2 linked regions of the Homo sapiens genome follow. Each later gene encodes a partner of the first gene's protein in a complex. Each region holds a gene or a part of one and is shown on either strand. Other genes may lie near its edges. A codon is read from its position in the direction of its gene.

Region 1 (7,250 bases):
GATGTAAAATAAACAAAATGCTAGTGAAGTTTAACAATGCTCAGGAAACATTGGTTCTTATAGGCAGTAGGCATAATTTTGTATAGACTTTAGCAAGCCATCTGTTGTGATTTTGTCAGAATTATTGTATGTAATATGGAGAACTGTGGGTTAGACACAGCGAAGACTAACTAGATGAGCAACTTCTTTCTGAAAATAAACTCTGTCCTCTGCCTTGCTGAGATTTTTTTTCTATTGGAGGTATTGCTCTGGGTTAGAGATTTACAGACTTTTCTTTAGCAATGTGAAAAAACTTGTCTTACAGGGAACCTCAAAAAATAAAGTATGTTTTATGGAATAATCTAATTTGGCTAAGGTGTGATTAGTTGGAGCAGGGGTAGGACAGGGAATCCCAGCCATTTGGTCTCTTTCTCCCCTACCTGGACAGTTTGTGGTCCTCTGAGAAGCTCAGTTTGGAAAGTTCTGCAGTTCATGACACACACGGGAGTTTCCAACCTGAGGACTTCTGATAACTAATAATTTTATAAACCAATGATATTTATAATTTCTGACTTTCTTATCTAAGAATATATTAATGAGTATTGTATACTTGTGTTTTTTTCCCTTTGTTTTTAACAGGAAAAACCTTTGCCCGTGATATGTTCTACATCTGCAGCTTCTCTAAAATCGCTGACCAGAGACCGTGGCATGTTATATAAAGATGTCGCTTCTGGGCCATGTAAAATAGTGATGTCTACAGGTAAATTCATATTTTAAAAATAGTATAGAATTACTAATCTTTTATCCTGTATTATTTTCAGTGTCTTCGAAGTCCTGGAAATAAAATAATAAGGGAAAAAGATGGTAATATTAAACATTTATCTTTGCATTTTTCATATTAAAGTATTTTGAAATTCTGATTGTTCCATTTTACATTAAGGAAAAAGTCTTTAAATACATGAGTCACTTGAAAATTCAGATACTCTTAAAGTATTTTATCCATTTAAGTAAGATTTATGCAATTTACATTGTCCAATCTATTCTTGTTTTCCCTTTATCTCATTTCAAAATTTGTCTTTTTGTATGGTATGTATTTTCAAAGCTGCCTCAAACCTTTTCTTAATGCCTTTTAAAAATTATCTCCCTTACACTCTCCTATTCCCTGGACTTTTTTTTCCTTTTAATTTTTCTTTCCTGACTAAAAGTAAATTTAGTTTTTTAAAAATAGAAGTCACTTTAAAAATGATTGTTGTAACATATCTCATTTTTTTCAGTTTATTATTTCTGATTTTTAATTAGCAGGAAAGACTAGCTAAATGGATATAACACAAAGGAGATAAAACATTGAAATCCTTGTTTAGCTTCGCTTGTGTTCAGTAGAATTTGTCCATGTCATCAGCACCGTGGGTTGAATTTTTAATAGCTATTTCATTTCTGAAGGATAACAGTCCTTCCTCTGGCTGTTGCCACAAAATTGAATTGTATATTTCAACAGAGCAAAACTGAGATTGATCAGTTTTCTTATACTAAATATAGACTATGTGTGTGTGAAAGTTTTGCAATATTAATTAATGGATTAAAAATAACATGCTTCTTAGGGGGACAATTTATTTTATTTTTGGTAGTGATGTGCCCTCATGTTTTGTTTCTTTGTTGTTTTTTTTTTTTTTGAGACAGTCTCACTTCATCACCCAGGCTGGAGTGCAGTGGCGTGATCTTGGCTAAATGCAACCTCTGCCTCCCGGGTTCAAGTGATTCTTCTGCCTCGCCTCCCAAGTATCTGGGACTACAGGCATGTGCCACCACACCCAGATAATTTTTGTATTTTTAGTAGAGATGGGGTTTCACTATGTTGGCCAGGCTGGTCTCAAACTCTTGACCTGAGTTGATCCGCCCACCTTGGCCTCCCAAAGTGCTGGGATTACAGGCGTGACCAACTGCGCCCAGCTTCCCTCATGTTTTTATAGTGTATATTGATTTGCATTTGTTGATTCTCAGTAAAGAAAATTATTGGAAGTTGGCATTTATGTGATTATAGATGAATTGCTTCTATATCATATGCTTTTATTATACTAAGGAAAGAGTTTATTTTAAAATTTTCTTCCATGAATCTTGGTATATATAGAAGGAACATTTTTATTTTCCTAAAATTAATAAAATATTAATATATATCAATATAACTTGTTATATATATCTTAAATTGTTTGGTTACTTTAGAAAATATAATTGAGGTGCAGTATTGGTGATTTAAAATAAATTCAGTCCAAAAAAGAGCATAGCAAGATGACCCGTTTTGAAAGGAAATTCTTGTACTGTGTATACAATTAAAAGATGAAAATATTCATCTGTCTTTGTGCCATTTTATATAATGTGGGAATGTATGAAGAATTGTTTTTGTGATGTGCCTAAAATGTCTGTAGATTTTATATCATCAGTTTGGACAAGATTCTAAAAAATTGAATAAACATTTTGATTGTTTCTTTGTGGGTTCAGTGTCTTTGCATCAATGTAAAAATATATTTACATATTTTTAGGTAGCAGAAATGATCATTGATATTAACTATATTTAGGTTTTCTGTGAGTGAAGTGGATAGTGGGATATAGTAATTGATTATGTAGTGTTTTCACAAAATTTCTTTTAATCAGTCTCATTGTTATGTATGCATACGCATTTTTTCTCAAGTCTGTGTCTATGTAAACAAACATGGAAACTTTGGCCCTCATCTGGATCCCAAGAGAATCCAGCAGCTGCCTGACCACTTCGGCCCGGGCCCGGTGAATGTGGTGCTTCGCCGGATTGTGCAGGCCTGTGTGGATTGTGCCCTTGAAACTAAAACTGTTTTTGGATACCTGAAGCCAGATAATCGTGGAGGAGAAGTGATAACTGGTATACTTATCTAATACATTGTCTAATTCAGTCCCTTCCCCCTTCCCTTCCCCCTTCCCTTCCCCCTTCCCTTCCCCCTTCCCTTTCCTCTCCCCTTCCCCTTTCCCCTCCCCTTCCCCCTCCCCCGCCCTTTCTTCTTTCTTCCTTCATCTTTTTAGAACAGGGTCTCACTCTGTCACCCAGGCTGGAGTGCAGTGGTGTGATCTTGGCTCACTGCAGCCTCCACCTCCCAGGTTCAAGCGATTCTCCCACCTTAGCCTCCTGAGTAGCTGGGATTATAGGCATGCGCCATCATGCCTGGCTAACTTTTGTATTTTTAGTAGAGACAGGGTTTTGCCATGTTGCCCAGGCTAGTCGTGAACTCCTGGCCTCATGTGATCTGCCCACCTTGGCCTCGCAGAATGCTGGGATTACAGGTGTGAGCCACCGCACCTAGCCTGTAATATTTATTATATTAGTATAATAGAACATTTATAGGAGTTATATGTTTATAGACTTTAAGCCCTGGTTTGAAAAGTTTACTTTTAAAATGGACAAATGATGTCAGAATAATGTAAATTGGGACAAAAGTCACAGATTCTTCGTTTTACATGCTGTGTTAAGCTCACTATAGGCAGAGTACCTTGGCTGATAATATATTTTATCTATAAGAAGCTCTAAATAAATATGTGACTCAAGAAGTCACTAAGCAATAAGATAGTGTTGGTGGCTATGATCAGACACCACAACATTCATACCCATGGAATATTTGGAATAGAAGGAAGTGTTACATAGATCAGTGAGTTTCTGTTGTTGTTGTTGACTTAAGAGTATTTTCAAATGAGGATGTTTTTACCAATACAGGCTATTGTGTTTGAGAGGAGCTTTTATAATATAAGATCATTCCTTTATGAATTACAAAGAACACAAATTAGACTTATAATACCTTTCCTAAGGTGATAGTTTTTTTTTTAATTAGTGTTGTATTTCTCATCTCTCTGAGGTTACTGACATCCTTTTTTTTCCCCCAATAGCCTCCTTTGATGGGGAAACTCATTCCATCCAGCTCCCTCCAGTGAACAGTGCATCATTTGCTCTTCGCTTTCTTGAGAACTTCTGCCACAGTCTGCAGTGTGATAACCTTTTGAGTAGCCAGCCTTTTAGTTCTTCCAGGGGTCATACTCACAGCTCTGCAGAGCATGATAAAAATCAGTCAGGTGAGAGAAAATGTAAACTCTTACACTTCTGTTTCACTTGAGAATCTTGTGTAATTGTTTTTCCTTGTGTTCTCCTCAAAGTAAACATTTTAGCCACAGTGAACTAATTAGAAATGTATAACATATAGTTGTTTTTGTTCATTCAAAATAGGAAAGTAATTTCTTGTATTCATAATGAACTTCAGAATCAAAGCCCATGGCTTACTTATGTTTGGCTTCATTTTGACTACCTCACAGAGTTAAACATTCTCTATTAGACTGAAGTATGGCTTTAAAGTTACTGACTTTTATAATCCTCAGAAGTTAGCAAAGCGTGTTGAGCCTATTGGCTATAAAGATAATTTTGTTGTCATTGAGGTTTGACAAATGATGATACGGTTTTGTTGTTGTTTTTGGAGACAGAGTCTCACTCTGTCACCCCAGGCTGAAGTGTAGTGGCACAATCTCGGCTCACTGCAACCTCCGCCTCCCAGATTCAATCGATCTTCCTGTCTCAGCCTCCCGAGTAGCTGGGATTACAGGCGCCCACCACCATGCCCAGCTAATTTTTGTATTTTTAGTAGAGACAGGGTTTTGCCATGTTGGCCAGGGTGGTCTTGAACTCCTGACCTTAAGTGATCCTCCCGCCTTGGCCTCCCAAAGTGCTGGGATTTACAGGTGTGAGCCTCCACACCCAGCCTGTGATATGCTTGAATTTGACATTTGAACCATGGTTGCTTCTCTTCCATAAGAACCCCAAACCGATGCCTGAATAAAAGGGTAGGTGTAAGATAGCCCTGTAGAACCAAAAGTGGGTTTCTTGCTTCTGATCCCTAAAGCAAGAAAGCTCTTTCAGCTTTTATGCAAGTGCTGTTTGTTTTTTGGGAGTGGTTTGTCTCTTTTTCATGTGACTCATGAAAGCTAACTGTGTTCTATTGATCATGGCAGGATTGTATGTGGGTCTTTTAAGAGTAGCTGAAGTTCTCAGGTGTTATTGCCGCATGGTTTTCTGGCCAGCTGCTGCTGATTCTGGAAATACAGAGTACCATCACAGACTATCTTTTTAAGTCCAGGGATTCTAATTCACGTGCCACTCAAGTGTGAAGCGTGGGTACCACGTCTCTAGCTACTACTTTTTTTTCTGGTCCTCCTGGTTACCCTCACCCTTCTTCATAAAGCTTGTCTCCTCTACTTCAGTGACATCTCTCATATCCATCCCCTTTTTTCCATTTCCTTGTTACTACCCTGCTTCAGACTGTACTAACCCCTTCTCTGGTTTAGTAAAGCAGGCTTCTAACTGGAGTCCTCTTTCCAGTTTCTCCCCTCTGGTGTAGCTGTCCAGTGAGTCCCTTTGAAATAAAGGTATGATACTGTGACATGCTTGCAAAAAGTATACATGGAGAAGCAGTGGCATGGAGAGCACAGGTGTTGGAGTTTGTCAGACCTGGGTTCCAATCCTGGCCTTGTAATCTCTGCTGAAAGAGTATAAAGTCTGACCGGCCTACATTTTAATTCAGTTCCTGCTGTTAACTAGCTATGTGCCCATAGACAAAGTACTGAGCCTCTCTAGTTCTCAGTTTCCTTATCTGCAAAGTGGATACCTCTTTGGTTGTGAAATTGAAAGAAAGTATATGTAAATTCTTAGCCTGCATTATGCCTGGCATGAAGTAGGAGCAATAAAAGGTAGCTGTTAGAACTAGGGGGAAGAGGAAGAGTGAGGTTTCATGTTTTCATGTGATATTATCCTTTTTTTTTCCTTCTTCAGGAGAGGTAGGAGGTCATCCAAAATGGTAGGAAATTTGGAAGATGGCTAGGAAGGGAAGGGCCACCTGTGTGGGAAGAGGGGTGTCTGTGTATTGATAGGTTTTCTGTTTCTAAGAGTAATTTGGGGAAAAATACGAGTTGGAGATGTTGAGAGTACAATTTCCTGATTTCTTTTTTTTTGGACACAGAGTCTCAGTCTGTCACCCAGGTTGGAGTGTAGTGACACCATCTCGGCTCGCTGCAACCTCCGCCTCCTGGGTTCAAGTGATTCTCTTGTGTCAGCCTCCCGAATAGCTGGGATTGCAGGTACCTGCCACCACGCCTGGCTAATTTTTGTATTTTTAGTAGAGGTGGAGTTTCACCTTGTTGACCAGGCTGGTCTCAAACTCCTGGCCTCAAGTGATCCTTCCACCTTGGCCTCCCAAAGTGCTGGGATTACAGGCCTGAGCCACCATGCCAGGCCCAATTTCCTGATTTCTTACACAAAGCATTAAGAATGCCAGTAATTTACAAAGCCTCATTCTTTGAAAGATTTTAAAGAAAATGTAATTCTTCTTTAAATTGAACACAAAATGTTTGAATTTTCAGATTAATCAAATAATCAGAATAGGTAACTATTTGAAAAAATACACTGAATAATCCACATATTTTACATTATTTTAGGGGTTATTAATTTTCTGTCACAGAAAGCTTAATTTAGCCATTTGAAAATGGCTTTGAGTTGGAACTCTTATGTTTTTCTTAAGTCAGCTTGTAGTTAAAGAAGTTGCATATAAATGCTATGAGGTTATTACTAAGATTTCACGTCTAGTATCCCATTTCTCTTACATTTTTTAAAATAAGTGACTCAAAAATAGTTTAAGATAGAGTGCTCTTCTTAGGAGACTTTGATTCTGACAAATCTAGTGTTTGCATATTTTAGCAGTAATTTTGAAGACATTTTACTGAAGTATAGTATACATAGAGAAAATTATACATGGAATGTAGCTTGATTAATTTTCATGCCTGTATAATCAGTCACTGGTTGGAAAAGTAGCTATTACTAGTACCCTAGAAGCACTGCTAATGTGTCAAACCCCCTTTAATCCACTACTACCCCTCACTTCGCACAAGGATACCTACTGTCCTGACTTCTAGTACCATATATTACTTTTGCCTATTTTTGAACTTTATAGAAATGGAATTATACAGCATTTACTCTTGTGCCTAGCTTTTTTGGCCTATCATTATGTTTGTAAGTTTCATCTGTATTGTTGCATATAGTTAGATCATTCATTCTCATTGCTGTATAATATTCTGTTGTATAAATATGCTACCATGGTATGTATCCATTTGAGTGCTTTCTGTTTTGTGCCCTTATAAATAGTGTTATGTTTTGTACTCTTATAAATAGTGTTATCATGAACATTCTATACACGTCTTTCTGTTCCTGTATCTATCTTGGA
Region 2 (5,499 bases), on another chromosome or scaffold:
GGCGTGCTGCGACCTCCCATTTCCTGCGACTTAGCAAGCCCTGCACACGCACGAACCGCCCTTGACGCGTGACGCTCACCCCTGAAGGCCAGCAGGAAGTCACCTAAGCCCTGATTTACATGGAAGCCATCCGATACGTGCTTATGGGCCAACGACTCGGCCGCTTAGAAGACCATGACCAGTTCTAACACTAGGGCTTTGTACAAGCACTCTTCTAAACAAAATCCGGTGTCTGGATTTTGGGAGGTCACTACTGCGTTGCGCGGCACCTCCAGGGTCGTACCTAAGCACAGGCGGAACCCCCTCCTTGAGGTCTAGTTCTCCCCGTGCCCGCCAAGTCTAATCCCGAGCAGATGCTCGGGCCGCGAATATCCCATTTCCGGTATCCGGAAGGCGACATCAAAGGGTTGATATTTACCCGTTATCTAGGAAGTGTTAACAGCTCTTTCTGTGACAGTTTGGGGGCCCTGAAAAGGGCCTTTTGGAGTCTGTAGAGAAGCTGTGGGGACAGCTCAACCGCCGAAACCATAAAGGGTGCGACCCTGGCGTTTCAGCGCGTACACCACATCCATGGCCGTGACGGTCTTGCGCTTGGCGTGCTCCGTGTAAGTCACCGCGTCACGGATCACGTTCTCCAGGAAGACTTTGAGGACTCCCCGGGTCTCCTCGTAGATGAGACCAGAAATGCGCTTGACGCCCCCACGTCGGGCGAGACGGCGAATCGCCGGCTTTGTAATGCCTTGGATATTGTCCCGCAGCACCTTCCGGTGGCGCTTGGCGCCTCCCTTACCCAGCCCCTTGCCACCTTTACCTCGCCCAGACATTCTGAAATCACAGCGCCTACTCAGCAGAAAATCGGGCTGCCCACTGTGATTGCCAGTCGCAGACCAGGGCTTATAGTCTCTCGATGCGGACCTGTTTGAAAACATCAAAAAAGTGGGCGGAGCTCTAGGCCCCACCTCTGGAGACATGCTATAGTTGTTAAGTCCAGGAAGCAGTCAGCGAAACCAGCCTGATTTTTTTGTTGTTTGCTCTTTTGGGAAAATTTTTTCTGATGTTTGGAGAAAGGTTCATGGTGATACGTTTTAAAGTTAAAACAGTATGAGCTAAAAGAATTTATATTGCCTTTTCTCAGCGCTTAAATAAAAGTAGGCCAGATCCTATGCACGTTCCTTGTTCTGTCCCTCCCTCCTTCTGTTTTTTCAAACGGAATTCCTGACTTACTATGAAACTCTATAAAAACCTGAAAAGCTTTACATCCGAGATTTCAAAGCAATTACTTAAAATTTAAAATTTTTCACACGTGGGTCTTCTGAAGACATAGTAGGGGGAGAGGACTTTTTTCTCTTTTACGGCCCTGCAGATAATTAAAATTCTTTCAATTGAAAAAAGAAAGTGCAGCTTCCCGTCCCCCACCTACACTCCACCCCCACCTCCCCCCGACCCCCGCCATTCCCCTTTCAGCTGCTTCTGCGCAATTTGCAGGTTTTCCTGCCCTGCAAGAGCCTGTGTGCTTTTCAACCAAGTAACTTCCTGTGGTTATTTAGTTGAAATATTGTCAATGTCTTATGTCATTCAAATCTCAGGTTCTCATCTCACATTTTCCACTTAAAAATTCAAAGTTCTTGTAAAACAATGGATGCCACAATCATGACTTGGAATAATGATTTCTACTGCAAATCCCCTCAGGAGGTTCTGAATCCCTTCCTTTCTCAAGAGAATCCCTGAACAAAAACGAAAGTTTCTGTAAGGTGTCACCGCTCTTCAAAGGTGTCAGGACCCTGTCTTCTCTAAAGGTTTTACTGTGTTAAAAAGCAGCTGTTATTTAGAGGATGAGTCATAAGTCTTTCCCAGGTAGTTAATTAGGATTCTGAGCAATGAATTTTAGTAAGTGGGGCTTCTTTGTCCCTGGTCTTGAAGATAAGCCTTTACAGCAGGAAGACTTTATGGTAAAATTTTGTTATATTTATAAATGCCTATAGTTTACATTTGTTTCAATCCATGCCCATCTTCATAACCCAAAAGGTATTTATTTTTCTTTTACTTTTTGTTAAAGATAAAAGAGTTGGAACACTGTCTTGAATGGCTGGAAAAAGTCCTGAATGGTCGAACTTCACTCATGATTTTAATATTTGACTCAGAGGGAAGAGGAAAAGTCTATCAGATCTTGAAGAGATAAGAATTATTGTAATGGGGCCGGGCGCGGTGGCTCACGCCTGTAATCCCAGCGCTCTGGGAGGCCGAGGAGGGCGGATTACGAGGTCAGGAGATCGAGACCATCCTGACTAACATGGTGAAACCCCATCTCTACTAAAAATACATAAAAATTAGCCGGGCGTGGTGGCGGGCGCCTGTAGTCCCAGCTACTCGGGAGGCTGAGGCAGGAGAATGGCGTGAACCCGGGAGACGGAGCTTGCAGTGAGCCGAGATCGCGCCACTGCACTCCAGCCTGGGCGACAGAGCGAGACTCCGTCTCAAAAAAAAAAAAAAAAAATTATTGTAATGGTAAAATCGGTTGACTTACTTATAGTTAAGCTTTCTAAGAAATCAAGACTAGAACATTTTCAAATTAGAAATCTCTTGCTTATTGGAATAAAAGAAAAAAAATCGTGTCTAAAATAGTAATACTTTTAAAAACTCTTGAAAATTCCCCAAGATACAGGCAAAAATTTAAGCTAGTTTACAGAACTCATTCCAGGAACATCTCGTTAAAAACTGCATCAGAGATTTGTATGCCCATTTATTTGGTATATCTAAGAGTTATTGGATGCTTACTAACGTATTTAATTTTCAAAACACTTTGATACAGGTAGAGGAGTCAAATAACTTATCAAAGGTCACTGCTCAGTGGTAAAGCCAGGATTTAGGCTGAGGCAGACTGGCTCCGGAAAGACCGCCTAAACCATGACAATAGCTCTGAAGACATTTATTGAGTCCCCAGTATGGGTTCATCATTGTTCTAGGCAGTAATGACATATACATAAATATTTGAAAATGTTATTTCAATGAAGTCAAATCTTTATTCGGATAGTGAGAAGGTAAATTTGCTTTACTTTAAATGTAAATGAATCCACATAAAATGTTTATTTTAAAAAGCAAGCGTTCAACATTACATCACGTATCGGTGTTAACTGTGTTACTGAAAATGTTCAGGTAAAAATGAAATGACCTCGATGAATTAGGAGAAAGTAATTTTTAATTAAAACAAAACACTTGAAACACTCTTTTTGTTTCAAAAAGCATGGGTCCACAATTCAGGTATATAAGAATAAGCTGCCATTCTGACTTTAGTCTCTGGACTCATTTACAAAGAGACCCGGGGGACCTCCACGTCTTCGCAGAGGACCCGATCCGCTGATCTGTGGCGCCCTGGCTTGCGGGGAGCAAGCCAAGGCCAAGACTTTGGCCTCTCCAATAAAACCTAGTGGCTCTTTGCAGGCCCATAGCCTCAAAGACAAAAGATATTTTGGCTAGGCGAGCTTGTTCCTCCCGTCAGCACAGGAAGCATTCACGTCTGGTCATCACTCTAGCTTCAGACTCAAAAGTGAACGATTGGCTGGCTGTGAGCCGCAGGACCCTGCGGGGAGACCAGGGTGGTCTCTACACTGTTGGGTAGCTAGCTGGAGGCAAGGCGCTTGTATAAGAAACAGTCCACGGACCCTGTCCTGGGCAGGCAGAATTCCGCGGACAGGCTGTTGTTTCGCCTAAGCAGCACGGGCTGCGGAGACAGAAACCTACCTGAGTAGTACGGTGTATTATATGAGAACATCCACTTAGCATAGCAACGTCTACGGACAACCCCTGTAGCTCTTCTTCTGGATTGTTTTCTGTTTCCAACCATGTTTTCTTATTTCCTACGAGTTTATGTGCTTGGAAGCGAGCGTGGTCGTGGAAAACCCGTAACCGCTAAATTCATCTGGGTCCCCAAAGACTGAGCCGGCTGGCCTCGTTATTTATGTGAGCGGCTATGTAAATGAGGATTCGGAGATTGCTCTATTGATTGGAGAGAGCTGGAGGAGGCGGTCTCTCTTCCAGAGCGCTAGTTGGGAGCGGAGCCTGCCTGTCATTGGTCACCAGAGCCAATGGAAAGGGGCTGCCGCGCGGCCGTAAAGAGTTTGTAGAGGCAGTTCGGGTGCGGTACGTTGCATTCCGGTACCGGACGCCGAGAGCGGTTTGTCTCCGTCTCTGGAGTTGTAGGCGAGAGGTGATCATGTCCGGTCGCGGGAAACAGGGCGGCAAAGTGCGAGCAAAGGCCAAATCCCGCTCCTCCCGCGCGGGCCTGCAGTTCCCGGTGGGCCGAGTGCACAGACTGCTGCGCAAAGGGAACTACGCGGAGCGAGTGGGCGCCGGGGCGCCGGTGTACCTGGCGGCGGTGTTGGAGTACCTTACGGCGGAGATCCTGGAGCTGGCTGGCAACGCCGCGCGTGACAACAAGAAGACCAGGATAATTCCCCGCCACCTGCAGCTCGCCATCCGCAACGACGAGGAGTTAAACAAGCTGCTGGGCAAAGTGACCATCGCTCAGGGCGGCGTCCTGCCCAACATCCAGGCCGTGCTGCTGCCCAAGAAGACGGAGAGTCAGAAGACGAAGAGCAAATGACCCTGACGCCGCCCTCAGGGAGCTGGCTCCCCCAGCAAAGGCCCTTTTCATGGTCGTCCCGCAATGCTTTTGAATGTGCTGGATGTCATGGAGGGCCGGTGACATCTAGCGGGGAGGTGGGCGGCGAGGGTCCCGGCGGGAGCCAATAAAGTTGGTGAAAATCGTTTGGTCGAGAGAGCTGTGTAGTCGCGGGGACATGTCGGATGGCCCCAGGGGAGGGGGGCGACCGGGAAACCCCTGGAGCAGGCACTGGTGGGTGGGCTTGAGCCACTCTGGACGGCTTTAGTCCGCAGGTCACCCTCGAGGCGTCAGGGGAGGGTGGCCTGGAGGTGGGCAGGGTGGAAGCCACCTCGCTGTCAGTAGGGCAAAGGGGAGGCAGAGTCGGTGCGGTGAGGCCTCCTTCGGAATTATTTTTACTTCCCTTTCACAGAGCCTTCGCTCTCCTGCCAGTTTGTGAGCACTCAGGACCAAGTTCTGGGAAGATACCGTCGGATCGAGCTGAGCTCGGGGCAGGAAGTGTCTGCGGCCATATTTTTCAAAAAGTGGAGTAACTTTCCGTCTTGGAAGGGTGGCTCTGATGGCACGATGTCAACTTGAGATTCTTCCTAGCCTAGTAGCTGCTGTGCTTTCATGCTTTGGATATCAGATATCTTTATATAGCACTTTTATGTTCATATTTTTTTTTTAATGAAGGAAACGTTCAATAAGTGAGTCATGAGGTTGGAAATTCGTTCCCCTGACAGTCATATTGCATAACATTGCAGCGCCTTTAGTCGTGGGTTACATATGCTTGAGCTTTTAAAGTGATGTTGTCAAGTTTCTAGCTTCATAATGATCCTGTCTTCATCATATCATATTCACTTTGAGAATCGGTTTGACTTTGCTTTCAAACAAAACAA

The links.
Region 2: the proteins of SCML2 (region 1) and H2AJ are in contact, whole or in part, in a crystal structure (PDB 4EDU), measured with the Homo sapiens proteins. Residues at the interface, in NP_006080.1 of Homo sapiens: Asp182, Asn185, Tyr187, Leu188, Cys190, Phe206, Trp209, Phe213, Pro239, Pro240, Gly241; in NP_808760.1 of Homo sapiens: Leu35 (codon at 4,313), Arg36 (codon at 4,316), Lys37 (codon at 4,319), Gly38 (codon at 4,322).

Annotation. Positions count from the first base shown.
Region 1 is NC_000023.11:18,253,660-18,260,909, reverse strand, and holds part of SCML2 (sex comb on midleg-like protein 2), read left to right. Parts: intron 1-618; coding exon 619-739; intron 740-2,662; coding exon 2,663-2,866; intron 2,867-3,879; coding exon 3,880-4,062; intron 4,063-7,250. UniProt on the Homo sapiens protein: Putative Polycomb group (PcG) protein. PcG proteins act by forming multiprotein complexes, which are required to maintain the transcriptionally repressive state of homeotic genes throughout development.
Region 2 is NC_000012.12:14,770,261-14,775,759, forward strand, and holds H2AJ (histone H2A.J), read left to right. Parts: upstream 1-4,144; 5' UTR 4,145-4,210; coding exon 4,211-4,600; 3' UTR 4,601-4,764; downstream 4,765-5,499. Other genes in the region: H4C16 (histone H4), read right to left, coding at 513-824. UniProt on the Homo sapiens protein: Core component of nucleosome. Nucleosomes wrap and compact DNA into chromatin, limiting DNA accessibility to the cellular machineries which require DNA as a template.